4 linked regions of the Homo sapiens genome follow. The protein of the gene in region 4 purifies or fractionates together with the protein of the main gene of each other region. This does not show direct contact. Each region holds a gene or a part of one and is shown on either strand. Other genes may lie near its edges.

Evidence for each region. The genes of interacting proteins can lie anywhere in the genome.
Region 1: the proteins of ANGPT4 (region 4) and ZC4H2 purify together in Homo sapiens (affinity purification with mass spectrometry; one large-scale study listed by BioGRID and IntAct). This does not show direct contact.
Region 2: the proteins of ANGPT4 (region 4) and CCDC136 purify together in Homo sapiens (affinity purification with mass spectrometry; one large-scale study listed by BioGRID and IntAct). This does not show direct contact.
Region 3: the proteins of ANGPT4 (region 4) and IFFO1 purify together in Homo sapiens (affinity purification with mass spectrometry; one large-scale study listed by BioGRID and IntAct). This does not show direct contact.

Annotation. Positions count from the first base shown.
Region 1 is NC_000023.11:64,966,451-64,970,730, forward strand, and holds part of ZC4H2 (zinc finger C4H2 domain-containing protein), read right to left. Parts: intron 1-4,280. UniProt on the Homo sapiens protein: Plays a role in interneurons differentiation. Involved in neuronal development and in neuromuscular junction formation.
Region 2 is NC_000007.14:128,811,688-128,815,967, reverse strand, and holds part of CCDC136 (coiled-coil domain-containing protein 136), read right to left. Parts: intron 4,169-4,280; coding exon 3,656-4,168; intron 3,261-3,655; coding exon 3,039-3,260; intron 1,331-3,038; coding exon 1,049-1,330; intron 355-1,048; coding exon 37-354; intron 1-36. UniProt on the Homo sapiens protein: May play a role in acrosome formation in spermatogenesis and in fertilization.
Region 3 is NC_000012.12:6,546,043-6,550,322, forward strand, and holds part of IFFO1 (non-homologous end joining factor IFFO1), read right to left. Parts: intron 3,855-4,280; coding exon 3,714-3,854; intron 3,443-3,713; coding exon 3,434-3,442; intron 2,808-3,433; coding exon 2,626-2,807; intron 2,504-2,625; coding exon 2,383-2,503; coding exon of another isoform or gene 2,119-2,382; coding exon 2,023-2,118; intron 1-2,022. UniProt on the Homo sapiens protein: Nuclear matrix protein involved in the immobilization of broken DNA ends and the suppression of chromosome translocation during DNA double-strand breaks (DSBs).
Region 4 is NC_000020.11:912,661-918,150, forward strand, and holds the start of ANGPT4 (angiopoietin-4 isoform 1 precursor), read right to left. Parts: upstream 3,675-5,490; 5' UTR 3,555-3,674; coding exon 3,246-3,554; intron 1,021-3,245; exon of another isoform or gene 779-1,020; intron 1-778. UniProt on the Homo sapiens protein: Binds to TEK/TIE2, modulating ANGPT1 signaling. Can induce tyrosine phosphorylation of TEK/TIE2. Promotes endothelial cell survival, migration and angiogenesis.

The DNA of each region.
Region 1 (4,280 bases), on a different chromosome or scaffold from region 4:
CTAAGCAGTAGAAATGGAAACATTTTTCCACAAAAAGACTTGTACACAAATGTGCAGAGCAGCATTATTCATAAGAGCCAAAACAGTGGAAATAACTGAAATGCTCCTCAACTTGTGAGTGAACACCCAAAATGTGCGATATCCATGCAATGGGATATTATTTGTCAACAAAAAGGAATGAAATACTGTTACATGTTACAATGTGAATGAATCTCAAAAACAATAAGCTAAGTGACTGAAGGCAGACCCAAAAGGCCACATTTGTATAACTATTTATATGCAGCATCAAGAAAAAGCCACTCTATTTAGACAGAAAATATATTACAGGTTTCCTGGGGCTGTGGATAAGAACAAAGATCAACTGAAACTGAACAAAGAGCTAATTTTGGAATGATGGAAATTTTCTAAAATATTATGGTGATGATTGTACAACTCTTTAAATTTATTAAAACATGCTGAATTGTACACTTGAAATGGATGTTTCCTATGGTATATAAAATATAACTCAAATTATCCTGTAATGACCTCTTACTGCACCCAGAATTAAATCTAAACCTACAACTCCCACTAAACATAACTTCTAAGCATGCTCATGTTTTCCCAGAAAAATAAATGACTTGTCAAAAGGCTTACGTAGAGGGAATGGATTTTTTTAAAGTTTGCTGATTAAGGCAGCCAGGAGAAATGAGAAGGAGCTTAATGGCTTAATAATAAATAAATAAATAAATAATTTGTTGCATTTGAGGTAGATTGCCTTTACTATGGTCTTCAGGATTTGCATCTAATTCCCAGCCTTCCATTCTCTGTCCAGCAATTGAGAAGTTTGAGCTAAGATTAAATCTAAATAAAAGGCCCTTCCTCTCTCTAATCTACAAAGAGTGTCATGCCAGTCACTGCTTAGATGTACTCACAATACCAAATTCCCTCTTTACAAACTTCCATCAATCAAGCAGACTTAAAAATTGTATTAAGCAAGCACCATTTATCCAGAAGTGCGCTGGTTCTTGTGGATGAATGATAAGATCCCTTCCTTCAAATAAAATAACTGATTGAGATCCAATATAGAAAATGGAACAAATCATAACTGTTATGGTTAAAGTGGAAGTGGGACCCCCAGAGTCATTAATCTGTCCTCAAATTCAACCACCACCTGACTCTATCACAGTGGCCCTTTAAAACCCTCCTTAGAATTCCCTGGGCTCGTCAGAACATTATTTCAAAGTCACCCATGAAATCTATCCTCTTTATTTCAGAGGTGAATAAATAAAGGTCCAGGATGGGAAAGGGACTAGCACAAGGCACATAGTCATGGTCCTCTGGGTCCTCTAAAAAGTACAGATTTATGCATGAAGCAACTTGAAATCAGAGTAATTATATACACGAGGGCTTTCTAGACAGTGGCACTATGCCATATTTCTCTCTTTAACCTCCACAACACCTATCATTCTGCTTTGGCCATAAGCGGGGCTCAATCATTACATTTGGAATGAGAAACTACTGAATGGTAGGTAGTAAATCCAGGGGAGTGATTATAGCATCAGTAGCCTCAGAGAAGAAAAGACATTACCATGGGTGGCAAGGATTTCATTCATTTGGTTCATATTTATTAAGAATCTATCTAAGTGACAGGAACTGAAAGCAACCGTCTGTTAAGAAAGGCTTTATTTAATAACAATAGCTATTATATTTGTGGTGCCTACTATGTTCCAGCAACTGTATTAGGCACTTTTTATGCTATCAAAATTTAATCTTCATAAGAACCATATCGGCAGGTATGTTTCACTTTATTTTCACACATGAAGAATTTGAGGCTGAGAGAAGTAAAGTGACTTGCCCAAGAAGACAAATTCAGGAAGTGGAAAATCCAGCGTTGTAAATCTGATCACCTTTCCATCACAACAAGGAACTTTCATCATATGATGGATTTAAAGCCATAAAAACCAGGCCAGTAGGGTGAATTCTTGTCCTGGCTCAGTCATCAATTTTCAGGGTGAAATAGTGCACTTCATGGAATCTCTTGGCACCTTGGAAATTCTACCTGGAAAGTAGGACTCAGTGTAGCCTTGCATGGAATTGTTGGATGCTTCAATGAGATGAAATCTGTGGAATGTTTGGCCCTACAAGTGAGGAAGCCATCCAGATCATTAAAGATGCAATTTTATATATAAAATTTCCTAATGAGATTTTTCCAAGAGGCTAAAGCACAGCTAGTATGACTCGTGAACCACAGGGAAACCACAGGGTTTTCAGGGTACTTTAGGGTTTCTACAGTCACCAGGATGACAGTCTTAGGTAACTTTTGGACCAGTATTCCTGAGCTCCTGTCCTAGTCTGTTTGTGCTTCTATAACACAATACCACAGACTGGGTAATTTGTAAAGAACAAAAATTTATTTCTCCCAGGTCCGAAGGCTAGGAAGTTTAAGATCAATGTGCCAACAGATTTGGTGTCTGGTGAGGGGCTTGGTCTCTCCTTCCAAGATGGCACCTTGTTGCTGCATTTTCAAGAGGGAGTGAATGTTGTGTCTTCATATGGTGGAATCACAGAAGTACAAAAAAGGGTCTAAACTCATTCCAAGTCATTTTCTAAGGCACTAATCCATTCATAATGGCAGAGGCTTCATGACTTAATTACTTCCCGAAAGGTCTCTCCTCTTAATACCATCAAAATGGTAGGATTATGTTTCAACACATGAAATTTGGGGTACATTCAAATCATAGCAGACTGCTAGGCCACAGGTTCTCCAGACAGTCTCCTGAGCCAAGACTATAAAACATTCAGCTGGATACCTTCTTTTCAATGATTTCTTTCTGGCAAATATGGAAGAGGACAGGTGCAAAGAAGGAGAAGTTCTAGGGCCATGGATCATCCATTGCTGGGACAAACTTGGCAGGCTCATCTGTCACCCAGTTTCAGAGGTGACTCAGCCCCAATGCACACTCAAAAAGCAGGGTAGGACAGCTGGGACCTGTAGGCCTTGAAGATGGGAAAATTAGGTGAAAAGATACTGTTTACTGGAGATTGATGGAAAAGTGCTGGTATTTGTTAATAAGTTGAGGGGATGATGAGAAGTGGACAATTCCAGATTATATTGTATAGGTATAACTGGCCAGGTCTTACTAATGCAGTTGTTCTCCACATGTAGTCCCTGCACCACCAGCAGCAGCATTGCCTGGGAACTTGTTAGAAATGTAAATTCTCAGGCCCCACTCCATATCTACTGAATCAGAGACCCTGGAAATGGGGCTCAGCAATCAATGATTTAAAAGCCCTTTAGGTGTAACCTCCTGCATGGTCAAGTATAATAACCACTATGCTAATGGTGTGGATGGAGAGGGTCACATAAAAAGAGGAATAAAGAATGGCTTCCAGATTTCAGCATAGTGAGGCATTTACTGAGATGGGGAAGACTGGGAAATAAAAATGTTTAGGGGTGGGGCTGGAGTTGAGGGCCTGTTTGAGATGCCAGTGATACATGCAAGGGTGTAAGTTAAATGGGCAGTTAGATATGTGAGTCTGGAACTCAAGGGAGAGATCAGAGCTATTGACTTTGATTAGAAGATCCTTCTGATGGGTCTTATTTATCCTAAGTGATGGGCCACCAAAGGATAGCCCAGCCCTGATTATGGCCCAGATTTATGCTCAGTAAATGTCACTGAATGAACACAAAGGAGCTAGTTTTTCCTGCTTACTCCAGTCTGGTGAGAATATTGCCTAAGTACTAAGCATTCTTCCATGTAATATTTATTTGCTCAACTGGAAACAAAGCTACTGTCAGCAAAGTAGATTTCTTATAACAGTTCATTCTGATAACTTTCTTACATCTCAATACCAAATGCCAACACCTTTTCAGTCTCTCCTGTGGCCAGCATTGTTTGGCTTAATTTGCCCATCCACAAGTCCCAGAGGTTCCAGTTGTCCTGTGCCTTGGTCTTGAGTAAGCACTGGTTCTGAGTCAATCCCCAAGCCAGGTAACAGAGGAGCTTACCAAGACTGCCACACCAATGGCGGAAGGAAAGGAAGAAGGGAGGAAGAGAGGAAGAGAGGAAGGGAGGGAGGGAGGGAGGGGGGAAGGAAGGAAGGAAGGGAGGAAGGAAGGGAGGATATCAATTCAAAATTCCATCATTAGATGGGATAACTTGAGTGCTATAATAAATCTCCCTGTGGAGTCTGTGGTTGGGGTATTGTAATTCATTTTGACTGGGGAACTCGAGAAGGTTTTGGAGAAGACGAGGCATTTCATATGGGTCTTCCTTGAAAAATGAGTAGGATTTAGATGC
Region 2 (4,280 bases), on a different chromosome or scaffold from region 4:
CACTTCCCACTTGATCTAGGCTTTGGCTCTGGTTACCTTTTTGCTCTCGGAAAGTCTGAGGGGGTTATTTTCTTCGGGACTTTCAAGGGAAGAGTCGGCGTCATCCTCCTCCTCTTCACTGTCTTCTTCCTTCTCCTCTTCCTCTTTGTCCTCTTCATTTTCCTCCTGATCTTCTGTGGATTTAGCTTCCTCAGGATCTGCTGGCTCAGCAACTAGCTCATCCCCACACTGCTCCTTTGCTTCCTCTTTCACTTGCTTTTTTTCCTCCTCCATCTCCTCTTTCTTTTCCTCCTCTTTTGCTAGTCCATCTAATTTCCTCTGGCTGGCCTTGTAGTACAGCACTACCTCCAGACTCTGTGGGGTGGGAGTAGGGCAGGATGGCGGCTGCGTTACCTGTGAAGCTCCTAATCTCATGACAATGCTGTACTAGCTCCAGGAAACATGACTTCCAGCATGTCAGAGTGCAAGGGTGTGGCCCGGTGCTCTGGGACTGTGAGCCAATCCCCTGAGCATATGTAGAGGGCATCACACCTCACCTCTCAGGGCCACTATGTCTGTTGGCCATTAAGCCATTTCAAACAGCTACCACAACTAAAGAGTCTTGGGCTCTGCACCTAAATTGTTGCTTCCCACCCCTACAGTGACTCTTCTTTTACCCAATCCTCTTTCACTTATTAGTACATAACTACTTTGAACAAATTCCTCCCTCTTCATCTATTTGGTTCTTCTCTTGGGCATGTAACCCAGGAAGAACAGGAGCCCCAACAAATGGGGCTGGGCAAACTGAAGGAGTTGTCCAGCCTAGGGGCTGTGGTCCTTTGGGGCTGCACCTCCCGATGTGAGTTGTCTGTGTTCCACTCTCCCCATAACTTCACAGGAAAAGGGAGCACCCACTTTCCATTAAGATGGGAACCACTGTAGACACTTCAGAGATCCCAGAAGCTTCTCTACAAATCCCTTGCCTGGTTGAAAGGGTTGTGGAGGCAATGCTTCTTCCCAGGATCTCCTCCTCCTTTCTGCTTATCTGGCTACCAAGGTTACTACTCACCTTTCTGGTCTCAAGGTCGCTCTCAGAAGTATCCGAGCATGGCTTGGTCACCTTTTTCATTTTAACCCCATTGGCATTCTTGTTCATGTTCTTATTAGCATTCTTCCCCCGGGCTTCTTTGACAACAGAAGGCCTCTTCTCCCTGAGCTGGCGGAGCTCCTCCTGGCAGCACTGCAGCTGCCCCTCCAGCTGCTCCTGCACTACCAGAAGCCGCCCCTGCTCATCCATGCTAGCCTGGTATTGCAGCTGCAGCTCCCGCAGCTTGGTCTGCAGTTCTTTGATCTGTTGGTAGTGGAGGGCCAGTTACCCAGAGTTGGCTGGTTATGCAACCAGTTGGCTGACCACGCAACCAAACTCAGCCCTGCTTGGGGGTCACTGTCTCAGAAATCTCCCTGTTAAAGCCCATAGGAAGTAGACAATAAAGAAAATATTCAACGGTGGAAAATGAGCCTCTCAAATAGTTTTACAAATAGCTTCTCCTAACTTGAGGCACCTGATGATGTCCATCTAATAAGATGAAAAAAACGGCAGGGCGCAGCGGCTCACTTGCCATCCAGTGTAATCCCAGCACTTCAAGAGGCTGAGGTGGGCAGATCACTTGAGGTCAGGAGTTCGAGACCAGCCTGGCCAACATGGTGAAACCCCATGTCTACTAAAAATACAAACATTCGCTGGGCTTATTGGAGCGCGCCTGTAGTCCCAGAAACTTGGGAAGCTGAAACAGGAGAATCACTTGAACCCAGGAGGCGGAGGTTGCAGGAAGCTGAGATCGTGCCACTGCACTCCAGCCTGGTGACAGAGCAAGACTCTGTCTCAAAAAAAAAAAAGAAGGTCAAAACAATGATTTAAATGGTGTTTTCTACTGTGACTGGGGAATAACAATAGGGCTGCTACCAATTCTGAACCTCAGGGATTTATTATATAATTCTTTTTTTTGAGACAAGAGTTTCACTCTTGTTGCCCAGGCTGGAGTGCAATGGCATGATCTTGGCTCACCGCAACCTCCGCCTCCTGGATTCAAGCGGTTTTCCTGCCTCAGCCTCTTGAGTAGCTGGCATTACAGGCATGCGCCACCATGCCCAGCTAATTTTGTGTATTTTTAGTAGAGATGGGGTTTCTCCAAGTTGGCCAGGCTGGTCTCAAACTCCTGACCTCAAGTGATCCACCCGCCTCGGCCTCCCAAAGTGCTGAGATTACAGGGGTGAGCCACCGCACCTGGCCTAGAATTCTTTTTATGGGAACTCCTACTTCATCCAACCCATCTCTCTAACAGGAACAATTACTTAAAGAACTGTGTTGTACACTCCTGAAGTGTGTACTGGGCTCCTGCACCTCACCCTGGAAACAGAGGCAAGTCACATCCTGCTCCCTGATCTCGGGTTTTGTCTTCCTTGGCTGATGGCAGCACACAACCATCCCCTCAGTAGGTACCAATACTAGCCAATCTGGACCCATGTGTTCGCTGCTCTCTGAATCTCTCCCGTGTGTATACAAAGAGACCCCCACTGGACCGTGAACCCCTGGCCAGAGACAAGACTTCTGTCCCATTCCTAGGGGGTGCAGAGCACTCTTCTTGGCATTGTGAGCGATCCAAAAGGAGACATGTCCCTGTCCTTGAGCTGCTTGCAATCTAGTTGGTGCTCCTAGTTGGTGCACCGGGAGACAAGGCAAATGCACACAAAATGATGAAAGAAGATTGGCAAATGCAAAAATACAGTTCTACAGAAGTGGTCTAGAACACAAAGCAAAAGAGAACAGAAGTGGCAAAGGGAGAAAGAGAGAAATCATTCGATGAGAGAAGTCCTGATGACTAGTAAACCCCAGCTCCACGGGCACTTGGGAAATGTCATCAGGGATGGAGCAGACTGCCCAGCCTCTGAGGTGCATATTCTCCCTGCTTTGTCCCTCTCTTTAGCCTCTATGAAGTGGCCATGACCTCTATGGCTCCAGGGGCTGCCAGAGGAAACCCTGCCTCCCTGACAGTGGTTACCTCATTCTTGTCGTTCTGGGGGGCCATGGGCTTTTCAAGGCATTCCATGCACTCCTTGAACTCCCTTTCACAGGCATCCAGCTCTTCCTTCAGGTCTTTCTGCTTGGCCAGTAACTTTTCCATCTGCTCTTGCAGCTGGCTGTGTTCCTCCTGGCTTATCTGGTACATGGCCTGCACCGCCTGCAGCTTGATCAGCACTTTCACAACCATTTCCTCAAAGCGCTGCGGGGGGTGGGGGAGCAACAATAGCACCCTGAGGAGCACCTAAGCTCCGCCCTACTCTGCTGGGCCCTTCCCTGGATACCAAACAATGGCCACCAGGATCCAGAGATGCCCGCGGGGGATTACTATATTTACCCCCATAAAGAGCATCGTGGCTGTGGTGAGGAAACGGACTGAATCTTATGGGCCTCTGTCCAGATGGGGGATTCTCTCTATGAGAGGGCTGAGCGGGAGACCAGGCTGCCATGGGTAGAGGGCTTCGCTTACTTCCAATAGTTCCCCAGGTCAGTTCTGACCCCATTCCCACACTTCTTGCCCCTTCCCCTGGCGATGTATCTCTTAAAAAGACAAGAGTCCATCGTCCCCTGCCTGACCTGTCACCTGGCAACCATTACCTCCATGTCTTCAGGCTCAGCAGGTTCCTCGTCAGTGCAGCTGCTGACAAAACTCTTCTGGCAGGTGTCAGAGCTACTGGTGCTGCCGTAACTCTTCTTATAGGTAATGCTGCTGTTGCTGGTAGTGCAGTAACTCTTCCCATAGGCCTCACTGGCACTGGTGCTGCTGTCATAGCTCTTGAGAAAGCTCTTGCTGCTGGTCTGGGTGCTGGTGTAACTCTTGTAATAGCTCTCATTGTCATCCACAGTGGTATCATAAGTCTTGCGACAGTTCTCATTGCTGGGGACCATGCTACCATAGCTCTTCCCGTAGGACTCAAGGCTCATTTTTATAGAAGGGGACTGGACTTGAAGCAGCTGCATTTCTTCCAGGCAGAGCTGCAAGTCTGCCTGCAGCCTCTTCCGCTCCTCTAGGAGCCTCCCTTGCTCTTGCTGCAAGAGCTCCTGCTTCGCCTGACCGGCGTCATACATCACCTGCAGGGCCTGCATCTGCTCCATGAGCAGCTTGGATTGCTGGGGGCAGGGGTGGGGAGACAGTATCATTACTCTGACACTTCAGTCCTTCCAGCTGCACCTCTCCTGGTACAGATGTCTGAGAGCACACCTTAGAGAATGGCACACCTAC
Region 3 (4,280 bases), on a different chromosome or scaffold from region 4:
TGAAATTGTAAAGAAGGAAAAAGAAATTTGTGCCAGTTTTGCTGTCACACCTCGAACTGCAAAAGGTACCGCCACAGCGCACGCTAAGTGCTTAGTTAAGATAGAAAAGGCATTGAATGTGTGGGTGGGAGACATGAACAGAAACACGTTCCAGTTGACAGCAACTGGACCCAAGCTATCAGGAGGTCAGTGCTATCTTTGGTTTCAGGCATCCACTGTGGGTCTTGGAACACATGCCCTGAAGATAAGGGGGGACTACGTATGAATCTCCCATGTGGGCCTGAAGAGAGGCTGAGACGCAGAGAAGGCTCCATGCCTCTCCCAAAGTCAGAGCGTCGGGAAAGGACCACCTCACCAGGCCAGGAGAGCTCACGGGGGTCCCGTCCATCCCTCCTCCCACAGCAACAGCAACCTCCATTCTGTGGTTCCACAAATCCTTCTTCCTTTGTTTGTATTTTTGAGACGGAGTCTTGCTCTGTCGCCCAGGCTGGAGTGCAGTGGTGCGATCTCGGCTCACTGCAAGCTCCGCCTCCCGGGTTCACGCCATTCTCCTGCCTCAGCCTCCCGAGTAGCTGGGACTACAGGTGCCTGCCACCACGGCCAGCTAATTTTTTTTTTTTGTATTTTTCGTAGAGACGGGGTTTCACCGTGTTAGCCAGGATGGTCTCGATCTCCTGACCTCGTGATCTTCCCGCCTCGGCCTCCCAAAGTGCTGGGATTACAGGCGTGAGCCACCGCGCCCGGCCTCCACAAATCCTTCTTGCAGCTCCTAAAGCCTAGAGTTTGAGCTAAAGCACCAGCTCCACTTGCCTCTAGGTACCTCTAGAAGGTACTTCAAGGCTTGGGAAAAAGCATGGAGATTTCTCTGTTATCTCAAAGGCTGAGTGGAAGAAACAGGAAAGTCCCAGTCCATCTCTGAGTGCCATGGCACTGATAGTGTTAATAATAATAAAACAGTCCCCACTATGCTACACTCGCTATGAGCCAGACACTGCCCTAAGCTCTATATATGCATTATTTCATCTGATCTTCTAAACAACCCTATAGGTGAGGTATTATTAAATTCCTCATTTTACAAATAAAAAGGCCCGGCACAGTGGCTCATGCCTGTAATCCCAACACTTTGTGGGGCCGAGTTAGGAGGACTGCTTGAATCCAGAAGTTTGAGGGCAGCCTGGAAAACATAGTGACACCCTGTTCTCTGTAAAAAAAATCAAAAAATTAGCCGGGCGTGGTAGCACACGCCTGTGGTCCCAGCTACTTGGGAGGCTGAGGTAGGAGGATTGCTTGGATCCAGAAGATCACGGCTGCAGTGGGCCTGGAGTGACAGAGCAAGACCCTGTCTCAAAAAAAGAAAGAAAGAAAGAAAGAAAGAAAAAGAAACAGGTGTAGGGCTGGACACATGGCTCATGTCTCTAATTCTAGTACTTTGGGAGGCCGAGGCAGGAGGATCACTTAAGCCCAAGAGTTTAAGACCTGCCTGGGAAACACAGGGAGACACCATCTCTACAAAAAAATACAAATAAAAATTAGCTGGGTATGGTGGCACACACCTGTGGGCCCAGCTACTCAGAAGGCTGGGGTGGGAGGATCACTCCAGCCTAGGCAACAGAGTGAAACAGAGTGAGACCTTGTCTCAAAAAAGAAAGGACAGAAAGACAAGGGAGAGAGGGAGGGAGGGATAGAGGGGGAGGGGAAGAGAGAGAGAGAGAGAAAGGAAGGAAGGAAGGAAGGAAAGAAAGGAAAGGAAAGGAAAGGAAAGGAGGGGCTCAGAGGGAACAAGTAACTTATTACAAGTTCAGGGTGGTTGTAAGTAACAGAGCTGAGATTTGAACCGATATCTGTCTGTTTCCAGAGCCTGAGGTCTTCAGAGCCCACCAGGAGGACTATAGCTGAGAGATCACTCCTCCTCCCAAGACCTTGGTCTCTAGGGTCCTGCAGCAGGGATGAGGCCACTGCGCCTGCAGCCCCACTCAAAACCCTCTGGGACACCACGCCCCTGGCTTCCGCTCCTGCCCTTACCTCTATCTGGTCAATGGTCTCCTGATACTCCTTCTCCCGGGTTTTGAACAGGGACTCCGTATCTTTAATCACCTTCTCCAGGCTATCTTCCTGCTGCTGGAGTAGAAAGGGAAGCGGGGGAGGCCAGCCAAGGAGGGATGGGATGGGACGCATTCCAAAGGGCCAAGTCAGGGAGAGAGAGAGAGAGGAAGTCTGGTTAAAGAAACTGGAGAAAGAAAAGCAAAAGGATAAAGGAAGAGGGGAGACGCAGGTAGAGGATGACAGCCACATGGGGGGACAGAGCAAGGAGAGGAGCGGGGGAGTGGGCTTCAGGCTGGAGAGGCAGAGCCAGAGGGCCCTGAGGCCGGGAGCAGAGGTTACCTCTCCCTGGGCCTCTGCAGCTGCCATGGCATAGCCTGAGAAATCCTCCCAAAGCAGCAGGGTCTCCTCAGTCTCCTCCCAAGTCAGGCTGTCACAGTCGTCCTCAAAATCATACTCCCTCCTAGAGACAGGGAACCCGGGTGTCAGGGCGGGCGGGGCCTCGTCCTGGCGGGGGACTGGGGAGCTCCGGCCTCCTGGGCTGCTGTGGCGTCGGTGCTGCGGGAGCACGGCCTGCGGACTCACAGCTGGTTGAGCATGCGCTGCATCTCCTCGTTGATGCTGAGGGCTGTGCTCTCCTCCTCATCCCCATCGGGCTGGCGGGGCCCCTCACTCTCCGACAGGGAGGTGTCCTCCTCGACGGCAGCCTTGCGCTCCCGCTTCCGCCCCCCCATGGATGGGACCTTAATGGGAGACAAGTGCAGAGACTACAGAGACGAGGCCGGGTGCATGAGGAGAAAGGGCGGGAGCGGGAGGCCGGGCAGAGAGGGTGGGAATGGGGGAGAAGCATGAACCAGTAGGAAGGGGGGGCAGACAGAGAGAAAAGTCACAGTTACAATGACAGGAACAGAAACACGGACAGTCACCAAGGGCCAGACACACAGCGGGGGTCAGGGCTGCAAACCGAGAAGGCAGAACAAGAAGAAATCGAGAAGAAGAGCAGTCAGACAAGGAAGGAAGGGCTCGCTGGGGCTGCAGTCAGATGTGCATGATGGCTCAAGAGGAAATTTTTTTCTAAAAAAAGTCTTTTTGATTAAATGACTCAACTAAAAAAAAAAAAGCTTTAGGACGCAAGGAGGATGAGTGTGCAATGTGTACAAAAGAGAACCTGAATCACATCCAGATCTGGAAAGCCGGGGGAGAAGGGAGAGAAAGAAATGCAGTCAAGAGAACAAGAGATAGAGAGAAAAAGGGGGAAGAGCAAGGAAAAGGGAAAGGGCAGAAAAAAATCCGTGCTCAAGAGCCCAGCGGGCCCAAACTGAGGGCCAGGAGGCCTAGGCAGCTTAGAAACTGGGACTGGGACATTAATAAGCTTGCGTGAGATCAAACTAACCAGCTTCTTCTGTGGAGGAAGCAAGAGAGAAGATGAGAGGAAGAGAGGAGAGGAAGCAGACAGAGGAGAGAGAGGGGGAAGGGAGAGACGGCGTTAGAGACAGCTTCCACGATGCCCCTCCTGATGCTGCTCCTTACCCCCCAGTCTAGCCCCGTGAGGGCCCCAGTTGCCAGGTAAGGCTCCCCAAGCAGGAGGCAGGGCCTGCGTTCCAGGCCAGCCGCCACGGAAGCATCCACCTGCCCCACCCACCCCTGAGAGCAGAGGGCAGCTCCGTCCTCACCTGGAACATCTGGATCATGTCCTCGCAGTTGCGCTGCTGAGCCACATCGCAGAGCTTGGCGGTGATGTCGATGCGGCGGCAGATGTCCATATCCACCTTCATGGCTTTCTCCTGGATCTTGGTGTCCAGCTCCGACAGGTTCTGTCCAGGGAGCCCAGGGAACAGTGAGGAGGCGCCCAGTTCTCCAGACAAGGACGAATTAGGCCTGGCAAGGTCCTCATCCTTCCCACCACATTGCACCGGTGCCTCTTCTGTGGAGTCTCCCTGAGCTGACTGCACCCCTCTTCCTGGGTAGCGGTGGCCTCCCCACAGCACTGTGTGAATATGCTGGGCATGGGGCGGCTCGGGCCACTGCTCCCTGGCCAAACGGAAGCCCTGGAGGGCATGGCCAGTGCCTGGGACATGCAGGGGGCTCACTGGAACGACTAGCGGTCCTCATCCTCCTAGAACTTACATTCCCAGAGAGAAAGAGACTCCTGGGAATTATAAGAGTGGAGAAAGGACTATAATAATCGCAACAGCTAACACTCTTCCAGCTAACACTGCATGCTGGGCACTGTCCCGAGT
Region 4 (5,490 bases):
GGAGTGCAGGGGAGGAGGAGAGTATGAAAGAGGAGAGAGAGAGAAGAGGTGAGGCCGGGGCTCTCCCCATGCCTGATGAGCACTGGCAGTAGGACACAGCAAGCTGTATGCTAGGAAAGAGTGCGTATCTGGGGACTTGGAAACTCTGCAGTAGAAGGGAGCACCAAGAGCATCCCATCCTCTCTAGATCTTGCTTCCCTTGCCTCCTTGACACCTTCCAGAGTCAGGAAAAAGTACCTGCAGTTTGTAGTGAGAATCCAGATTGGCTTTCACTGCTACATGGCTCTGGCAAGTCACTTTCCCTCTCTGGCCTGTTTCCTCACCTGTACACTGGGGGAACAGGAGGGGAGTTGGGGGCACAGGCTGAGCAGATGATGGCTTCTGGGATTCGCGACAGGAAGGATCTCCCCTGTGTCTGTCTAGATGAACAGAATCTTGCTGAGAGCTTGTTCATCCCTAATGGCAATGGTGATGATGGTGATGATGATGCTGATGGTGCCATTAGATGAGTATTTTAAAACTCTTTTTTTAACTTTTCTGAGATGTTAGAGAAAAAGCCAAAAAAAGGCTTTGAGTTTCAGAAGATCTGAGATATGCCTGGACCAAGAGAAGAACCAGAGGAAGGTCACAGCCACAGCCACAGAAGGTAGCAAGCACTCCCCACTGGGGACCAGGAGTGTCAGAGGGGGCAGAGAGAAATTATTGTTTACATGAACCAAGGGAGACCGAAACCTGCTCATCTGTAGCCATTTGGTAAGGAAGTACCTGCAGCCAGGTCAGCTGAACTCCCATATCAGAGATCTTAGGCCCTACGGCACTCTACGGTGACCTGACTGACCCTAGCTCAGAATTTTCAGGCTAGGTGAATGGATGCCTGGAGAGGACATTCCACCCCAAGCTGAGGCACTGGACCAGGTGACCTTCTGATCCTGCAAGCCATCAGTTCAAGCCATCAGCTCTCAGCCAATGTTTCCCAAGCATCCGACACCCAGGGGATTCAAAGATGGATGAGAGTGAGAGGTGAGACTTGGGGTAGGAGGCCCAGTGGGAGGTGATGACAGCATCCTGGGAAAGATGACGAGGCCTAAGCCAGAAAGATGGACCATGAGAGAAGCCTAGGCCACAGGATGGGCTGGGCCAGCTGCCTGGGGGATAGGTGGGAGCCACAGGAAGCCCCCAGGGCACAGCCTGTGGCTGGGTGGTGGTGTCACCCTAAACAGAGACAGACAGGCAGGAGGAGGGTGTTTGGAGAAGAGCAGGGAGTCGTCTCAGGCAGCTTTGGAGTTGAGACACCCATGGACCCTCAGGGAGGTGTTGGGGGAGATCCAGGTCATGGGTTTTGGGCTCAGGATCCCATCAATGCCAATTTTGTGTCATCACGGAGCAGGATGGAGACCTGGGACCTGAGAGATTGGAAGGACATTTATGCATTCATGCATTCACTCATGCTACAGACATTTATTGAGTACCTACTGTGTGTTCGGCACTATTCTAGGCCCTGGGAACCCAGAAGTGAGCAAAAGAGACATGGCGCCTGCCCTCTGGGAGCTCACACACCAAAAGAAATGTTTTTAAGAACATTAGGTAGGGATAAGTTCTAAGAAAAAAAAACACAACAAAGCCAGCAGAGGGACAAAGGGTGGAAGAGGAAGGTGGTTATTTCGTACGGGGAGGACAAGGAGGGCCTCTGGGGAGATGGCGCTGGAGAGGATAGGAGGCTGGGGTAAGCAAAGTGGGAGTCTGGGAGAGGGAACTCCAGGGAGTAAGGGTTCTTGCTTTTATTCGGATGCATGGTTAGCCCTGGGAGGAGGGAGAGGATGTAACTTAGGTTTTGATGGGGATTCTTTGGTCTGCTGCATGGAGAACAGGAGGTGGGGGCCGAGTGTTAGCAGGGAGCCAGGGGGGCAGCCAGGACAGCTATCCTGCCTGGAGCCAGAGGTGGTTGTCAAGCTTGTCTGCTGTTTAATACCTTCTAAAACTCCAGGAATTAGTTCGCATCCTTCATTCCTCAGTCATCGCCCAGACTGTCTCCTGGGTCCCTCTCCCTTTCCTTGGTAGCTCTCACTTAGGGACTCTGAAGAGTCCCATCTCAGACCCCCCAGGATGTCTCCTGTACCCTCATGCCCCGCCAGGGCCAAGCCTGCTTTGCACACCTCTGTAGTCAGTGCTTCTCCGAGGGTACACAATAGGTGCTCACACTGCTGAAAGACGAAAGCATGACAGGGCATTCTACAGCAGCCCTGGTCTTGGGCCAAAACCACAGTGGCATCCTCAGCTCCTTGCTTCCTCCCACTCCGCATCCAATTCACCAGCAGAGCTGATGGGCTCTACCTCCAGAACCCACCAGAATCTTACTGGCCACACCCCCTCCTAGCCCCGTTCTGCTCCAGGCCTCCGGTACCTTGCACCTGATGGCTGCAGCGGCCACCTCTTTGGGCTTCTTCCTTCCACCCTGCCTCCTACAGTCTATGCTGTTGAAATCGAATCACGGGTGTCTGTCTCTGCTCACAACCTTGCAGTGGCTCCCATGACACTCAGAACAAAAGCTGAAGTCCTTCCAGTGGCCCCCCCCCCAGCTGCATGGCCTGCCCTGCTGTCACCTCTCAGACCTCCCCGCACCCTTGCTCCCTCTCCTCTGCTCCAGCTACACAGGCCTTCGCCCCATGGTTCTCCAGGCACACACCGCTGCGGATGCATTCCCTCCTCACGGTCAAAATACATGCAGCTCCCTTTGCAGAACGTTCCCTCAAATACCTGCCTGGCCCACTCTATCATTTCCCTTGTTCTCTGGGTTCAAATGTCACCTCCTCTGAGAAGTACTCTCTAATGATCTGACCTCAAGCAGCCACCCAGGGCCGCCACTTGCCCTCTTTCTTCTTCATTTTGCTTCACCATCTGACATAGTAGATTATCTCTTACTGCCTCTTTCCCCTACTAGTCCAGAGGGAGACATACTATACTGTCGTATCCCCAGCACCCAGGAAGGCTTGGTCCGTTCAGCCCTTGGTCAGGGCTGAATGGATTTCTGTTGGATGAATGAAGGGACGGCAGTTAAAGAGCCAGGTTGCCAGCTGACATTGCCCAATCTTGCTGTGTGGCCTCAGACCCACCCCTGCCCCTCTTTGTGCAGCTCAGAGACAGCCCTCTGTGCTCAGGGAAGGCCTCTTGGATGGACACTCCACCTGCTGATTGTGACAGACCCCAAAGCCGCCCTCTGCCCCCTGCAAACCTCCCATGCCCCGTACCTTCTTCAGCCACTGCGTGTTGTTCTGCAGTGCCTGCTCCAGCTGTTTCACCTGCTGGGTGGGCAACTTCCCCAGGTGCAGTGGGTTGGCCAGTGATTCTCTCTGGAGGGTGTTGGAGTCCCTGGAGACCTCAGGCCCCGGAGGGCAGGGCTCAGACTTGGGCAGCAAGAAGGTGTAGCTACAGTGGCCGTGCTGGACTACAAGTGTCTCGCAGCCCCTATCCGCCTCCTGCCTTGTCTGTTGAGCCACAGACATGGTGGCAACCACAAGGAGGAGGCTGCCCTGCAGCATGGCTAGCTGGGAGAGCATCTGAAGATGTGTCAATGGCGAGGGATGTCTGCTCAGAGCCCTAGGGGCTGTGCCTGGGATGTCCTGCTGCAGCCAACAGTGGCCAGGCTTGCCTGCAGCTGCAGCTACAAACCTCTGTCTGGCCGAGCTCTGTCCAGGCAGCTATTTATACTTGCTCTGAATACCACGGCTGCTCTGCTTGCTTCCTCTCACCGCCTCCCTCCGGCCCCACCCGACACCCTCTCACCTCTATTCTTCACTCCTTCCCTTCCTCCTTCCTCAGTCTTGGTGGCACGTCGCCCTTACCCTAAGCGTGCACCAACCTTGCTCTGTCTGCCTCACCTCTGAGCCCTCTGATTATCCAGTGAGGCCTGGCTTCCCTGCTGGAGGGGAGGGAAGAAAACAGCACACAGACACGCGCACACACTCATGCACACACTCACGAGCACACACTCACACGCACGCTGACACGCACACACATTCATGTACACACAAACGCCAAGCTCCAATGCTGCCCGCTTTGGAAAACCAAATGCAACTTAACTCTCCCTTCCTGTCTCTGTCTTGGTCTCCCTCTTTCCCTCCACCCCCATCCCCTGCCCCCCAAGTCTAAGATCTCAAGTTTCAGTCCCGCTGCCATCCCCTTCTCTCCCCGCTGCACCTTCCTCCCTCTGGTTCCATGTTAGCGCTTGGAGTACAAGTGACCCCCGGAGAGAGCAGAGGGAGGGGAGGAGGCAGAGGGGTGAGGCTGGGGAGGGCCCAGCGAATCCACTTTGCCTCTGGAGACACAGAAAATCCTTCCAAGGTGGGGCAAGTGAGCAACCCAGCTGGGAGTTGCTTCCTGTCCTCTCTTCTCCCTCAGGGCCAGGGGAAAGTGGTATGCCCCAGGATGGCCCTGGCTTGGTTGCTTGTAACAGTAATGAGAAGTTGTCATGTCCTGGGGCAGATTGTCCTGGGGCTGCTGGAGTGGGGATGTGGAGAGGAGGCAGTGGGGAGAGGAGGTTGGAGTGCCAGGAGGCTAACCCTAGATCTCGCTCCCCGACAGCTGGCCACGAGACCTAGGGTGGGCAGCTGTGCCTCTCTGGGCCTCCACACCCTGATCTGTAAACTGGGTAAACCTTATCTCTTGCAGGAGGAATGCGTGTGAGTCCTCAGCATGGGGATGGAGAAGTTTTCAGCTTCTGGGTTCAAATCCTGGCTCTACCATCTACCAGCTGTATGACTTTGAGTAAGTCACTTAACCTCTCTGTGCCTTCATTTCCTCCTGAATGAGGAAAATAATACCACCTACTTCACATGGCATGAAAATTAGGTGAGTTAGAGCAAGGTTGGCACAGAGCGAGCACTAAATAAATATTTTCCGTTGTCAATGTTATAGTTGTCATTGCACCTCCCCTCCCACGACCCACTGGAGCATAAACTCCTCTAGGGCAGGGATTTGTCCCTGGGGGACATGGTCTCCAGGCAGAAGGTGCCCAGGAGTTGGTGGGGCCTTTCCTGCATGGGCTGCCTTTATGTTCTGCCAGCTGTTTGGGCTTTTCCTCTCTCCCTGCTTGTTTCCTCAGAGTAGGGGCCAGTCTGGCTGTTTAGTATTTTCCTTTTTGTTCTCTCAAATCCCGATAGAGTTTTGAATTGGGGCAGGCTGCTTCTGGGCAGCTGTGAACTGTGGTCTCATCTGGGGACTGAGAACATTATACCAGGTGTGGGGCTTTTGCAGGCAAAGGAAAAGCAGCTGGTTATCAGCCTCCAGCCTCCCCTGAGCCTTCCCACATGCTCTGAGCTCTGCGTGCCCCGCTTGGCCCCAGTTGCCTCAGCTGTAAATGGGGTCATAGCACCCTGACCATGTGAGAGTAATGTGGACTGATAGCTTATCACAGCTCTGGGTGCAGAGAAGGGCAGTGTGAATGGTGGTCGTCATTATGATTGTCTTGACTGAGCTGCTTGATAATCCCAACGA